2 separate regions of the Homo sapiens genome follow, and region 2 is linked to region 1. Evidence: fine-mapped expression QTL. Tissue or cell type: cerebellar hemisphere. Region 1 holds a variant in brackets; the other region holds the start of a gene. All regions are shown on one strand. Distances are between the middles of the regions.

The links. PIP is the estimated chance that this variant, and not a neighbour inherited with it, causes the effect.
Region 2: it holds the start of TMCC3, and the variant in region 1 is fine-mapped to the expression of TMCC3 in cerebellar hemisphere (GTEx, PIP above 0.99). The same link has a PIP of 0.9 or more in cerebellum.

The regions. Positions count from the first base shown.
Region 1 is chr12:94,749,105-94,757,288 of GRCh38, forward strand. No RefSeq gene overlaps it. Among named protein-coding and RNA genes, the nearest start is that of MIR492, 81 kb to the right of the region's middle. The variant A/G (reference allele first, on the strand shown) is at 4,369.
Region 2 is chr12:94,645,800-94,653,983 of GRCh38, forward strand. It overlaps TMCC3 (transmembrane and coiled-coil domain family 3), which reads right to left and starts at 4,758. Exons shown (of 4, transcript NM_020698.4): 1 at 4,554-4,758. The coding sequence starts at 4,631. It overlaps LOC105369914 (a long non-coding RNA gene), which reads left to right and starts at 639. Exons shown (of 2, transcript XR_945225.4): 1 at 639-3,804; 2 at 5,106-5,203. RefSeq lists silencers at 4,002-4,131, 4,222-4,691, 4,712-4,881 and an enhancer at 4,210-4,925.

The DNA.
Region 1 (8,184 bases):
ACCCCAGAAGCTGCCTACGTTGGTCTTCCTGTTATGTGAGAAAAATAAATCCCTATTTGTATCAGCCCAATGGAAATAATTTTTACTAGCTGTAGCCAAATGTATTCCTGACATAAAATGTAACGTAAACAGCTTTCCAGGCCATTAACTTTACAATATCATTTTAAATGGCTACAGAGTACTCTATCAAAGCGATGTACCACAATTCATTTAACCAGTTTTCTATTGTTCAACTTTTAGATCACTTTCCATTTAACTATTATGTACACTGGTCGAAGATTTTTGTAGACAAATCTTTGCAATTTTCATGATTGTTTTCTTAGAATAAACTCCTAGAGATGGAATTTCTTGATGAAGGGGCACGTATATTTTTTAAGGCCAATACCAGCTTGTACTCTTCTCGTTCTCTCCCTCGTACAAGGAATGCCATTTTAAAAAAATTAACAATCAGATGAGCCAAAACCAATACCTCATTACTACATAATTTCTAAGTTTCCTTTTATAACTAAACATCTCTGATGCAACTTGTGAAACATAGTAGAAGATTTGGATGTGGGTTTTAACGGGCTTTCGGCTGACTTCAGATTCATTTCCAAAGCAAAGAAAGCACTGCTTGGCAGTGTGTTACAACTCTAATTTGTACAAATCTTCCCATTATTGTGAGCCTGCTCTCATTTCAGCCGTATAGGGCCCCTCAACCAAAAGTCAATATAGAACATCTGCGGGGGCTGGGAGGGGAGCTACAAATGACTGGAAAATGGAACCCAGAGAGATGGGAGATTTCTGGGAAGAAACAAATTTTAAAATGAATAAGGAGAGAAGGGAGTAAAGAAAAGGAAGAAAGCCACCAGAATCAGGGTCCACACACTCAACTTTCAGGCACTCGCATTCTGGTTTTCCGCCTTGCCAAGGTTGCTTCCTGGCTCTGCGGTTCTGTTTGGAAAGTTGTCCCCTTAGGCACAGCAGCTACGTCTTTCTCATCCTTTGTGAGTCACCCCAAATAGTGCCTCTTCAGAGGAGTTTCCTCCAATCACCTGACCTAAAGTGGCTCTCACGTCTTCCCTGACCTTCGTATCATCCTATGTGATTTTCTTCATAGCACTGAAATGGTCTTGCTCAATGACAAGCATCCATGTTGATTGTCAAGTTCCCCCAGCAGAATGTACCCTCAACCTGAGCAGAAACCTCACTCTGTATCCTCAGCATCTAGAACAGTGCTCGGTCCGTACTGAATGCACAGACTGACAATTTCCTAACCTCTAACCAGACACACACTCAGAGATGATCATGGAAAGCAAAGGATGAACTAACTGCTCCGGGGCCTTGGGAAGTCTGCAGCTCCTGAAACCACACTTCAGAGAGCAGTAGAGAGTCCAGTGTCCCTAGGCAGCTGCCACTTCTCCTTCCCTGACTCATCAACTCCCACTCCACTGAAGTGGAGGGTCCAGGGGAGGGAGGGCCCAGCATCTAGGGCTGGCCATCTCCAAAGGGATGAGAGGGGTTACTGTCACATGGGGCTCTTCACACTTATTTCTGGTATTTTGCTCTTATCAGTATTTCAAATATTTTAATTTTTTCTTATGAAGATTTTCAAACAAACAAGGTAAAGGGAATGGTACAATGAACTAATGTATCCATCACCCTTCTTATTTCATCTCTTCTCTTACACTGTGTATGTGTACTGGAGCATTTTAAAGCAAAAATCAGACACATTAACAAAATGTTTAACTGTTCCTGTGTGCTGAGACTGCCTTCAGAGCCCTGGAATTGCACAGTACACATGCTAAGAGCACCAAGGGGTCAAGGTTTCTTGCTGATGCTCAATCTAATGGCAGCTTGCTGCTTTCTTCTCGTTGACATGCACAAAAAGGTAGATTTCCAACTAACTGCTTAAGAAAACATTCGGAGCAAACAAAGCCTTTGATCCCTGTGGAAAGCTTAGAAGATGCCAGGCAATTCTGCAAAAGCACTAGACGCTAAGCAGTAATAAACCAGGTCAAACGGACATGTCTGCCTGACACCCAGTTGTTTTGGTTGTCTCTTCTCCAGTTACTTAATTTCCCTGCTTACTGCCTTCTAGATCCCGGAAGGTGCCATGTTCACCAACTGGTACTGCCTTTTCCTTCTTCTCACGTGAACAAAATGAAAGTATTAATTAGAGGTGTCTCTGAGAACAAGTGAGGGAGCAAGTGTTTTTATGTAGCCATGGAGGGATGGGTCTTGGGAGAGTCAGAGCGGCTGGGCTCTCTGAAAGATGACCCAGTCAGTAATGGACACGCAGACACAACTGATCCCTGCTGGCTCAAGCATGGTGCCTGGAACAGGGCAAGCCTGAAATGAACTAAGGAATTAATGAATCAAATGAGTGAATCGGAATTGAAGAGGCTGGGGGATCAGCAGAACTCTGGATCCTGATCTCCCAGGCAACGCACTGTAAACAATGAGCAACTAAAACAAAACTTACAAAATAAGACATTAAAATACATTTTAAAATCTATCACCTTAACAGAAGAGTTACTTTCCTTCTTCCGTGTAAGTCTCTGTCATTTGAGGATTAGTTTTTATGCAGCTGCAATCTTGATACACGGGCAGTTTTATAAACACTCTTCCTCACTTAACACAGCAAACACGACCTGTGTTGTTAGTCTTCCTCAGAATTATTTTAAATGGCTGCATGTTTGCAGGTGTGCCAACACAGCCTAGCTTAAGTTACTTGTCTGCACTATTCCTTTCCTTTCCTTTTTTTTTTTTTTTTTTAAGACAGTCTTGCTCTGTCGCCCAGGCTGGAGTGCAGTGGTACGATCTTGGCTCACCACAACCTCTACCTCCCAGGTTCAAGCGATTCTCCTGCCTCAGCCTCCCTAGTAGCTGGGATTACAGGTACCTGCCACCAAGCCTGGCTAATTTTTGTATTTTTAGTAGAGACGGAGTTTCACCATGTTGACCAGGCTGGTCTCGAACTCCTGACCTCATGTGATCCATCCACCTCAGCCTCCCAAAGTGCTGGGATTACAGGCATGAGCCACCGCACCCGGCCTTCCTTTCCTTTTTCTTTGCACATTCATCTCCTTTTTTTTAGGGGTTAAAAGAAACTTTCCCCTGGCCTCATCTCCCACTCCCTCTTGCTGCGAGGCACCCGAACCATGAGCGCTCCCTCCCTCGAGGCATCAGCACATGCTGTTCCTTCTACATGCAACACTCTCTCAAAGTCCATTCGTTTGCCTAACCTATTCCTACCCACATTTCAGGGATCGGATTGTCACCCCAGGAAGCCTGCCCTGACCTTCGTAGATGCTTTAACATCCTGTACTTCAAGGGTGATGGTGCTCATCGTGGTCTGTAATTGCTTGTCTTAGGATCTGTTTGTCCCACCAGATTGTGAGCAGGACCTATTTTTTTGGAGCCTTATTAGCTAGGTGATCATGGTGAGCCTCAGTTTCCTCACCTGTAAAAGAGGATAGTCATGCACTCTTTCCCACCCACCAAAAAGGATGCTAAGGAGATCACACCAGGCAGTACTGTGAAGATTTTCTGTGCAGCATAAAGAAAATGATTTCAAATTCTATATCTGCCACCTAATCCTAAGGAACGAAAGGCAGTCACATCATCTTAACCCTTTGAGGCTCACAGTCAAATGATAGCTAACATTTATGAATATTTATGGACACTGTACTAGACAGTTTATATGCACTTCTCATTTTATCCTCATTACAAATGAATGGGACAGAATCTAGTATTATCCTCACTTTCCAGAGGCTCAGAAGACTAAATAGATTTCCCAAGTCTACACTGTTTCAGAATATGCTGCTGAGCACCCAGTGCAAGCCTCTTCCCATAAAAAAAATGCCCATACATACATCCACACAAAATAGTGCATACAATTTCCAAGTTCATGAGGCCCCTGAAGCCAAACTTCTTTTGATCCCTATTCTAGGCCTTGCATGCAGTAAAGTGAATTCTCCAGAGAAGCTCAAAGATTTATACACCCCACAGGGCTGGGAGGTTATGGGAATAAACTGTGTCAGCAAAAATTCTGGAGAAAACCTTGTAGCCTAGGAATGAGTTGTAAATCTTGAGGTCTCACTAGACACAGTTTCCTTGGCAACTTAAGTCACTGGGCTGACTGAAGACTCTTGGCCCAAGTAAGAGCCACATGGCATGAATCCTGTATTCTGATAAGCCAGGTGCTGGGAGAAGCTGGTAGTACTGCCAAACTACAGCCACCACCACCGACAGCCAGATACTTACTGGTATAGGCAGTTGCTGAAGATACTCACTGCTTGATGTACTTCATATACCGGAGAAACAACAGCTAAATGGAACATACGAGGCCTAAAGGAGCCAACGTGGGAGCAGGAATTGGAATTG[A/G]TCAAACCATCTGGCCTGAGACTGTGCTAATCTCAGAATGGCTTTGGATGCAGTGAGGCATCACTGTGGGTGTGAAAGGTGTGTCTCACACTGAGCAGAGTGAGAGCCAACACTTGGGTCAGAGGGAATGGCGCAACACCACCCTCTGCAGAGGATTCCGTGGGATTGTGCCATGAGCCAAATAAGCAATGAAAACGTGAAAAGCAAACCGGTGAGCCAGGCTGCATTTTTCATTGTGGCACTGTGTGGGCAAAGCCTTGGAGACCACCTGGGAATGGGATAAGATGAGCCAAAATGGTTTCCATGGCGAATGCTCCCAAAATCAAGAAACAAAGGCTTGGGGAGAGTGTGGTGTCCAGAAAAGCTGCCTGCTGAGCAGTGCAAGCTGTGACGGTCCTCACACGGAAGATGATGGAAGCCAGCAACTCTCCAGATCCCTTAGAAGAGGAGAAACGGGATGCAGCTGAAGAGACTGGTTGGGGTGAGGGTAAGGGAGAGCAGAGAGAACTCCCCACCCCTGAGAACTGTCAAGCTTGGAACTAAGCTACCAAGGGGACACACACAGGAATGGTGCCACAGCAGCCCCTAAATGTCGGGGAGGCAGGCATTTTGGTGGAAACAAAGTTTATTTTGCTTTTTAAACAAAAGAGGTGATAAGGGTCCTCTCTCAAACATATTTTTTTGATGGTCCACAAGTTAAACTACCGCCAGTGCAAAACAGGAGAAAATTATGGGTCCACAATCCTTTATCTGCAATTCTGAAATCCAAAACGTTCTGAAAACAGAAATTTTTTTCCTAAGTGTGTGCAAATCATTTGGAAGCAAAATCTGACCTGAAATGACATGAAGTTATCATAATCTTTACTTATCCCCATCTAATATGAATATGTCTTACTGAAGACACATTAACATGTCTCATTGCAAAGTGCTAACCCCAAGTCCCACTGGAGGCGTTAGATAAGGTGTAATAAGCAAAGAATTTCCTCCAAAACTTGGGGTAGGCAAAATTGTGGACACACATCTCCTTTTCTACAGGTCAGTAAAAACAAAAGAAATGTTTGACCACCTGGAACAGAATGAATGTAATAAAAAAAGGAACCTACCAGATCTCTTTAGCCTCCAGGTCGGAGGATGGCTTTGGGGCAATCGATGATATAGGTGTCCTCATGGGGTCCATGAACCAGACTACCCTTCTGTTTCTAATTCTAAATTATAATTTACATATTGTGTTTAGTTCTATTAGACTCTAGCTTTGCACCCATATAAATCCAAAGCAACTCCAGATTTTTCATTCATGCAGTGAAATCTGGGAGACTCTCTACTGGGATGAAAATGAAAATATTTAATAGGTAATACTGTCATTGGCTCTCCTGCTCCCCCTCCAGGAGAATATGAACTGGTAAACTTGATCTCTTTCATTTCTAGAGATCTATGATTTTAGAGGGGGAGAATAAAACAAAGTTAAATGAAGATGATGTGTTTTCTTGGAGATCTGAATAGTGTTTTCTTGATGAACAAGAGAAAGGACTCCAGATTTCCCATCAAATGATCCACTTTTCCTGTTCCATAATAGAAGGCCCATTTGGCAGGTTAAAGGATAAGAAAGGAAGATTTAAAAGGGAGTACACAATGGAATACTACTCAGCCATAAAAAAGAATGAATTAATGGCATTTCCAGCAACCTGGATGGGACTGGAAACTATGATTCTAAGTGAAATAATTCAGGAATGGAAAACCAAATATTGGATGTTCTCACTCATAAGTGGGAGCTAAGCTATGAGGATGCAAAGGCATAATAAAGACAAAATGGACTTTGTGGACTCAGGAGGAAAGGGTGGGAAGGGGGTGAGGGATAAAAGACTACAAATGGGGTGCAGTATATACTGCTTGGGTGATGGGTGCACCAGCATCTCATTAATCACCACTAAAAAACCACCTGTTCCCCAATAACCTATGGAAATACAAAATTTTAAAAATAAAATAAAAGGGAGTACAGATGGCTTTTAGCCAAAAAGACCTGGATTCAAAGCCAGACACTACCACTTAATAGCTGTGTAACCTTGGAAAGTTTACTTCACTGTGGCTGAATATCATCTGCAACCTAGAGAAAAACAATATTTTCTTCATAGGGTTTTTACGAGGATTAAATGGCATGTAAAACATACCTAATACATGGTAGGCACTCAATATATGGTAGCTATTATTATGGCTGTTGCTAGATTCGGGAGTTGAACAGTGCCTGGCTTCACTTCTTATTTCACCAGATTGCCTGGCTCAGCAAATGCAGGGGATATTGACTTCATGAGCACAGAAACAGTGGATAATAAACACACATAGCAACAAATCACATCGGTAAACCAATCTACCTCAGCTAATAACTGCTTTCCAGGCTCCTGCATTTGCTTTGTTAGAGGAACTAAATAGTTCCTAATGGCTATGGAACGAAATCATTTAGAAGAGGGTGAATTTCATCAGCTTTAGAGTTTCTGTTGAGGGCAGTGTAGGAGACTGTGCAAAGCCACCTCTTTTTAAAGAAAGCTAAGCAAAAATAATCCATAAATCATGTGAGTACCTATTACAGGTGCTTATGTAACTTACCATGTTTTCTAAGGAGAGGCTTATTTCCCATTCATTGAGGTGACATTTACTGAGCATGTCCAATGTACCAGCTACCATATTAAGTGCTAGAACACAAAAATAAAAAGACATAGGCCGAGCACAGTGGCTCACACCTGTAATCCCACTTTGGGAGGCCAAGGTGGAAGGATGGCTTGCGCCCAGGAATTTGAGACCAGCCTGGGCAACAGAGCAAGATCCCATCTCTACAAAAAAATTATTTTTAATTTAGCTTAATTTTTAAATGCATAGTGGTGCATACCTGTAGTCCTGGCTGCACAGGAGGCTGAGACAGGAGGATCACTGGAGCCCCAAAGTTGGAGGCTGCAGTGAACCGTGACTGCACCATTGCACTCCAGCCTGGGTTACAGTGAGACCCTGTCTCTTAAGAAATAAAATAAAAATAGAAAATCAAAAAGACATGAGCCCTTCTCTCCAGGAACCCAGGCCTGTGGGCGAGTATGTATGTGTTTTTTATGGTCCATGCTGGAAGTGGTAATGAGAGAGGGGTGCACAGGATGATACAGGGTGACTATCCAAAATAGACACTTCCCTAATGTAAGATAGTTCCACGACGCTGGAATTATATACAGTGAACACGTGTTACTTTTAAAACTAGGAACAAAAAAATGTAAAAGGAGAAACAAAGAACTCAAAGTCCAGTGGTGGAAACAGATTATATAACAAATATTCAAATAGTGGGATGAGTACCAAAATTCAAGGACATCAGAGTGTTTTGGGGGGAGTATTCTTCCTTTAGAAGAAAGGAAGGGCATTCCATACTGCCTGGGGGTAAAGATGACAAGGCAGGTTTCCTTAAGAAGGTGACACTCAAGCTGAGACCTTGAGACTGAATGATTTGCCGGTAGGAGTGTGTAAGTACAGTTTCTCTAGAGGGCAATCCAGCAATATTTATTAGTATTTAAAATGTGCATACTCCTTGAACCAGATGTTCCTCTTCTGGTATTTCAGCTGACAGGAATGCCAGAAAACATATCAAAAGATCTCTGTAAAAAAGATGTTTATCACGTCAATGTAATAATAAAACACTGGAAATAACTTAAATGTGCATCAATAGGACATTGTTTAAATAAGCTATGGTGTAGCCATATGCTAGAACAATAGAGTCATGAAAAAAATAAAATTTATATATAGCATATTAAGTTTTAAAAGGTAAGTTACAGAATAATGTATCCTTGT
Region 2 (8,184 bases), 100 kb before region 1:
AATGCTCCTGTAAGCATTTCCTTTGAGCGTCATGTTGACGCTCAAAAAGTTTTGGATTTTGGCTTTTGGATTGAGATGCTCGGCCTATAGTAAAAGTGGTTAACATCTATTGATTTCTTATTGTGCACCCGGCATGGAGTTAAACATTTTATAGACATTACTGAATTTATTCCTCAAAACACCCCTATTATGTAGAAGTAGGAACTAAGGCTTAGAGTGATTACAGGATCCAAGATTACACTGGTAGCAAACAGCACTGGTACAAGATCTGTATTCTGGGGACTATCCTAATGCAAATGGTTCTGTAGGGAAAATAATATGGTCCTTGCATGCAGGATGGAACAGAAGTTGGTGAAGGTCATAAGTGACTAAGGTGGGGGATGATTGGGAGATATGGAAGAAACCAATTCCAGAGAAATGTCAGAGAAAGGTGCGGTGGTATTGCTAATAGGTTAGAGAGATGGGGGAGGGCAGGCACTCAAGATGACTAGCAGTTCTGATTAGTAGTGGCACCAACAAAATAGAAAAAAATTATTAACCTGACATATAGACAAATACAGCTTTTTCACCCAGTGAGAGAACATAAATTTAAAAAAATTTTTTTAAATAGCTAATATTTGAAAGCACACACCTTTTTTTTTTTTTTTTTTTTTTTTGAGAGGAAGTCTCACTCTTGTCCCCCAGGCTGGAGTGCAATGGCACGATCTCAGCTCTCTGCAATCTCCGCCTCCCGGGTTCAAGAGATTCTCCTGCCTCAGCCTTCCGAGTAGCTGGGATTACAGGCACCTGCCACCATGCCTGGTTAATTTTTGTATTTTTAGTAGAGACAGGGTTTCAACATGTTGGCCAGGTTGGTCTTGAACTCCTGACCTCAGGTGATCCACCTGCCTCGGCCTCCCAAAGTCCTGGGATTACAGGCGTGAGCCACCGTGCCTGGCTTTTTTTTTTTTTTTTAAAAAACAAATACTTTCTTATTTAAGACACACAATCACTCCCAGAAGAGTGGAGTATTACCTCTTTTACAGATGGGAAACTGGAGGCTCAGAAAGGCTATTTAGGACCTTGCCCCAGTGGTCACCCAGTTAAGAAGCTCGAAGAGCCAGAATACAACCCACGTAGGTCCAGAGCCCCAGCTGTCCACCACTATACTCAAGTGGCTGGAGAGGGCATTTTAGAACACTTAAAATGAAAACCAACTAAAAGAAAACCTAATTCACACATCATTAATAAAAGCCAGTTACTGTATAGAAAGCAGACGGCCTGTATTCTTAAAAAGATGATAGGCTTTAACTATCTAGGGCATGAAAAAAAAGTAGGAGTCTAATTATGGATGCTCTTTCTTCTAAAGTAGAGAGATATGTGCATCAAGTTAACAAGCACCATTTCTGAGTTTTACAAAGATGAAGTTTTAAAATGTGAATGATCCTGACTTGTCAGCTTAGCAACAATCACAGAATTCATTACTTACATTTTCACTAAGGGGGGAGGGGTTATCTAGGTCAGTCCACCTAGATGTAAAAATAGATTTCTGCAATGTTGAAAGAGTACACTGCCTCATTATTATTCCAGTCTCAAAGGCTGAAATAAGCCCAGCAAGACAGACCATGTAGTTTCCCTGTTATCTCAACAGGTATTGATTTTGAATTTAAAAAATGACCATTCAGTAACTAAGAACTTCATCTCATGGAGTCTTTGCCCACTTCTAGGCAGAAACTCCATATCCCTGAAAGATTAGTCGACTCTTCCCATGACCCCCTAGTTCTCATTGGCATTTTTAGGGGAGCTAATTCACCAAATGAGTTCATAAAAGGGTTCTTTTTAAATCCTATACTAGTTTCCTCCCAAGGAGATGGTGACATCAAGAAATTAGCACTCGATGTCTTCCTCTCGCATCACATACGTTCTGGGTGTCAGGAAAACATATCTTTACAGCTGCATCCAAGTGAGTTCCACAATACAGGAGCTACGATCATTTAAATGGATGAATACTTTCTGCACAGTAAAATTGTTGCTTTCCCTTCATTACAACAGACTTATTGTAGCCTCAGGACAGACTTGAAATTACATCAACCCTGCTTGAGAAAAGTTATTATTATGAGTTTACAAAAATTTCACTAGTTCTACCTATTCCTCGCTGTCTCAACAATAAAAAACCTAAAAGCAGATAGCTGAGAAGTTTCAACTGGGACCTCAAGAAGTCCAGCATCACTGTAGTAGAATTTGTGATTACGGTCTGCTGAAGTTCTAGCCCTTCTCTGATTTCCTCTCTTCACTAGATCTGACTGGCCCAATGTGCTAATTTACGATAATCCGCACATATAATGTCTAACTCAGTTTTAATACACAGCTTATTTAAAAATCGGGTATCTCCATGCTAACAATACAAGGCAGCAGGTACAATAACATTGTCAGTAGAATTGTTTTATTTATTTATTTATTTATTTATTTATTTATTTAAAGACAGAGTCTCGCTCTGTGCCCAGGCTGACGCGATCTCGGTTCACTGCAACCTCCGCCTCCCGGGTTCAAGTGATTCTCCGCCTCACCCTCCCGAGTAGCTGGGATTACAGGCGCCCACCACCACGCCCGGCTAATTTTTGTATTTTTAGTAGAGACAGGGTTTCACCATCTCGGCCAGGCTGGTCTTGAACTCCTGACCTGGTGATCCACCTATCTCGGCCTCTCAAAGTGGTGGGATTACAGGCATGAGCCACCGCCCCCGGCCCGTCAGCAGAATTTTAAAGAAAATCAAGAAATCACATAAGGTTTTGACCTTTTAATAGAAAAGACTGGCGTAGACAGGCAACAGTGGCAGATGCGGCAGAAACACTCTGCAGTTACCTTACACAATTGCTTTACCACATTCCACCTAAGCAGTTGAGGCACAAACTTTATCACCACCATTTTACAGGTTATGAAGAGTGAGTTTTGTAAAGTTGCATGAGTTTTGCCAAACCACTTAAATGAGTTGACAATGAGCCATCCATCCCGCTAAGATTACTAATCTTGTTTACACAAAGAAGATCACAGTTGTGACAAGAAAAAACAAGCTTTCACATTTCAAGTCTGCAATATTAACTTTACAGAATCCTCTCAATTACAAATGCATTCGAAGATGATCTCCTTTTCTTCATAGTTCTGTTAACTAGCATTACAGCTATCCAAGAAGAAATGTCTACCTGTGGGTAAGCACATTTCTTCAATGTTTATTCCAAATGGAGTTTCTGGTTATTTTCACAGCAAACTGTTACGAAACTTATACACAAAGTGCAAAAACAAGAGAATTGTAAGATTGAGATGAGTGCATGAGGTATTATTCCACCAAATATATTCAATCTGTAAAAACTCAAATCATCCTTCCAAAATGATTAACAGATGCTAAAGGAAAAAGGGAAAGCGGGCAAATAAACCAGAGACTCATTGCTTCACTTCTGGGGCAATCGATTACTACTTCAAATTATGAGTGAAGACCAAAATCCTGCACAAAGGGCCGCGACACAACCCCGTCACTATTGCTACTATTTCCATCCAGTTGGTCTCTCGATCTTGGAAGTGGCAGGCCAGAATCTGAGCCCGGCTCTCCCTCCGTGAACTTTACACAGAGGCTGACACCCAAATCCCCAGTTCTCGGACAAGCGAGTAAGTAGTTGGCGGAGCAAAGAACAACTCCAGGTGCCTCCTGCCAGAACAGATGCCAGCGTGGAGGAGGTGCTTTGTTAAATGGCACTTCAATCAGCCCTGGGGAGAACGGGTTACAGAGCCTCACATCCAGCCTCGACGATTCAACAGCCCGGGAGGGCAAAGGTATTCACCGGGGAGGGCGAAGGCTTCCTCTCCCAGGACAGACCCGCGCTTGGGCTGCGGCCTCCGTCTTTATTTTGAAGCCCTACAGGGCTCGTCTCTGCAGCAGGCTCAGAATGAGCTATTTTCGCCCACAGCCAAAATCAGCAACAGCAAATTACACTGCAAACAATGGCGAGGGCGCCTGCTCGGCTCGGCTCGAAACTCCGGAGAGGCAGCGCAAAGATTCTGACTTTTCACTTGGGCAGAGCCCGTCCGCCGCCTCCCCGCGCTCCGGCTGCGCACCGCGCTCGGGTTCCGGCCACACGCCCCGAGGACAGGGAGACAGGGCGGCCGCCGGGACGTTCGGCGGGGAGGGCACCGTCACACCCAGGGCGAGACCCCGGAGACCTGGAGACGCGGGGCCGCGGGTGGCCGGGTGGCGGGATTCCCTCGCGGAGCGGCGGGCGCTCCCTGGCGGGGAGGACAGCAGAGCGCGGGCCGTCGGGGAACCGGGCGTCCCGCATAGCGCGCGGGGACCTGGGCGCCGTGAGGGGCAGGCGGACCTGGGATCCCAGAACCGCAGCCTGGGCTCCGACGCCCCCGACGCCCACCCTTTTAGCTCGGAGGATCGGGGAGGCACGGACCTCCGGCGGCAGCGGAGGGCGGCGGCGAAACGCCGGGGGCGCGTGGGTTAGCACTGAGCCGCCGCCCCAGCCCGCCTCGCCCCCGGGCCCGCGCGCACCCGCCGCCCCCCAGCCCGCTGCGCTCACCCGGCTCTTGCAGCGGTGGTGCCGGCCGGGGTACGAGTAGGTCCGGTCCACGGTGAGCGCCGTGTCGCTGCCCGGCATCTCCGCGCTCCGGCCGCGAACTTTCCCGTCTTCTGGGGCTGCCGCGCCGCGAGCCACCGGCTGTGCTCGGGATCACCCTGGGAGCCGCGGGCGAGGGGGCGGCGCGGCTGCTGCAGCTGTTGCCTCTGGTGCCAACACCCGCGCGGCCGCCCTGCGCCGCCGCCGCCGCGGGGTGGGGGAGGCGGGGCAGGAGGCGAGAGTCTCCTCCCCCTTCCCTTCTCCCCGCCTCTCCCGCGCCCCGCAGCCGCCTGGACCCCCCACCCACCCCCGACCCGGGAGGCAATGTCTTCGCCTCCCTCCCTGGCTGAAAGTTGATTCCATCCCCTCCCACACAGCCCTCTTTCTCCCCAAAAGATAAGCGACATCCACACTACACTATCTGTTGACTTATTTTATATATAAAAGGTGACTGTTACTGCAAGAAGTTGACACTTGCCTTAAATGCCTCTTTTTATGTTATTCTCCATTCAACAGGCACTTACTGGGCAGCTGCCATGTACCAGACGCTGGACTAGAGACCAGAGATTTAAAGTAAAAAAATGAAATAAAATAAAAACTCCCCCCGACCATGATTGCCCTGAGCATAGAGCATACTTCCACTTAAACTAAGATCCTACTGTGTTGTGTATTTTAATTTTGCATATCTGGCTCACCTTTATGTTTCTTTCTTTTTTTTTTTTTTTTGAGACTGAGTCTCGCTCTGTCACCCAGGCTGGAGTGCAGTGGCGCAATCTCGGCTCACTGCAAGCTCCGCCTCCCGGGTTCACGCCATTCTCCTGCCTCAGCCTCCCAAGTAGCTGGGACTACAGGCGCCTGCCACCACACCCAGCTAAATTTTTTTGTATTTTTAGTAGAGACGGGATTTCACCATGTTAGCCAGGATGGTCTCGATCTCCCGACCTCGTGATCCACCTGCCCTAGCCTCCCAAAGTGCTGGGATTACAGGCGTGAGCCACTGTGCCCAGCTTACCTTTATGTTTTAAGCTACTTGGAAGTCAGGATATCTTTTCATTTTAGTATTCCCCATTCCCAGTCATCAGTCCCTGCCCACAAGGAATTTGGAGTTTAGAAGAGGAAGGACCATTGGTGAACAATTTAAATATCAGTAACCCCAAACAAAATTCAAAACACCTGTTCTGGCTCTGTAGGGTGTACAGTGGGAGACTGGGCTGAAATATTTAAAGTGCAGCTGTTCCAGAGAGGACCTGGAGCCCAGTGTGACCAGTCCAGGGGGAGGGAAGGATTTCCCTCATAGGGTTCAAAGGGGACGGTAGAGCAGGCTGAAGAAAACTTTGGAGCCCCTAAAATCAGAGGTACATTTGGGAAAACCTCAAGTCATCAGTTTTGGGGAGTGTCCTCAGGAACAGGAAGACATGATGGAAAAGAAGGCAGAGACCATGCAGAATCTTCGTTCAAGGGTAAGAAGTTCAGCCTTATTCTGTGGGAACTGGGTAGCTGTTGGAAATTCTTGAACAGGGAAATGATAGCATGGGAATGGAAGTTTAAGGAGAAGGTATATCTGACATCAGGGTGAAGCAGCGATTGAAGATGGGCAAAACACACTGGCTTCTTAGAAGGCCACTGTAAAGACAGAATAGCCTAATTATCCTTCAGAAGGAGACTAAGTAAATAAATGATGGTACATCATCCAATAGAATATTAGGTAACTGGAATAGAAATGAGGCAGCCCTCTATGAATAGCTTTGGAAGCAAATCTAACATACATGGTTCAGTGGAAAAAAAGCAATGTGCAGGATAATATATATGGCATTCCACCATTTATGTAAAAACAATATATGTTATGTGCTTCTACATGCACGACATATATCTGGGAGGATAAATAAGAAACTAGGGAAACAGACAAGAAATTGATGCCAAGAGAGGGGAACCAGGTAGCTAGAAGGCAGAGATGGAGAGAGATCTAATTTTCACTGTGTATACTTTTGAAACTTGAATGTTTATACTGTGGGCATATATTAACTATTCAGAAAGTAAAATTTTTTAAAAAATGTTTTTTAGAGATAGGGTATCTGTTGCCCAGGCTGGGGTGCAGTGGCACAATCATAGCTCACTGCAGCCTCAAATTCTTGGTCTCAAGGGATCCTCCCACTTCAGTTTCCCAAGTAGCTAGAACTACAGGTGTGTGCCACCATTTCTGGCTAATTTTAAAAATATATTTTTTTGTAGAGAAAGGGTTAAAACTAACTTAAGAAGAAATTGAAAGTCCCATGTAGTCCTTAAGCCATTCAAAAAATTAAATCAACACTTTTAAAAATACCCATCTACCACTACCCCAACACACAACTATACTAGACCCAGAGAGTTTTTCAGGTAAGTTCTTTGAAAGAAGAGAAATACCAAACGCTGGGGTGTGTGTGTGTGTGTGTGTGTGTGTGTGTGTGTGTTGGAGGGAGATTTTAGCTAGGGTGGCTAGAGAAGTCCTCCATGATAAGGTGACCTTGAGCAGAGACTTGGGAAATGAGGAAGCCAGAAGTATAGACATTGAAAATTTCCAGCAGACAAACAGAAAGTCAAGGGCCCTGAACATTTCGGGAGTGTTCAAGGAAGAGCAAGGAGGCCAGTGTTCACTGGAAAGAGATGAGGTCAGAGACATTTCAGAGGGCCAGATCATATATGGACTTTCATTCTATTTTAAGAACTTTAATTTTAGGCAGGGCGTGGTGGCTCACGCCTGTAATCCCAGCACTTCAGGAGGCTGAGGTGGGCCGATCACCTGAGGTCAGCAGTTCAAGATCAGCCTGACCAACATGGAGAAAATCTGTTTCTACCAAAAATACAAAATTAGCCGGACATGGTGGCGCATGCCTGTAATCCCAGCTACTCAGGAGTCTGAGACAGGAGAATCGCTTGAACTCAGGAGGCAGAGGTTGTAGTGAGCCAAGATCATGCCATTGCACTCCAGCCTGGGCAACAAAAGCAAAACTCTGACTCAAAGAAAAAAAAAAAAGAAAAGAAAGAACTTTAATTTTGGGGAATATGGGAAGATTTGGAAATTTTTGAGCAAAGGAGTGGCATGATCTACCTTTTCACTTGGATGAAAATAAAATTGATCTCTACCTCACAGCATAAACAAAAACCAATACCAGATAAAGGAAAAATAAAGAAAAAAAATTAGCTGGACATGGTGGCTTGCACCTGTAATCCCAGCTGTTCAGGAGGCTGAAGCAAGAGGTTCACTTGAGGCCAGGAATTCAGCCTGGGCAACAGAGCAAGACCTGTCTCTAAAAAAATTAAAAATTAAAAAAAAAAAACAGATTAAAGACTTAAAGTGGAAAAAACACAACTTAAAATTGTCAGAAGAAAATGAAAGAATATCATTATTATCATCTCAAGTAAAAAAAAAAACAAGACACAAAAAGCATAAACCACAAAGGTTTGACATTAAAAAAATTAAACTTCTGCTTATGAAAATAAACAATAAAGTAAAAAAATAAGCCACAGACCAAACTCCAGCTAAAAAAAAAAATCAATATGGACAAATTTCACAAACAATACTGAGAAACAAAAAAAGCAAGCCACAAAAAATTACTTG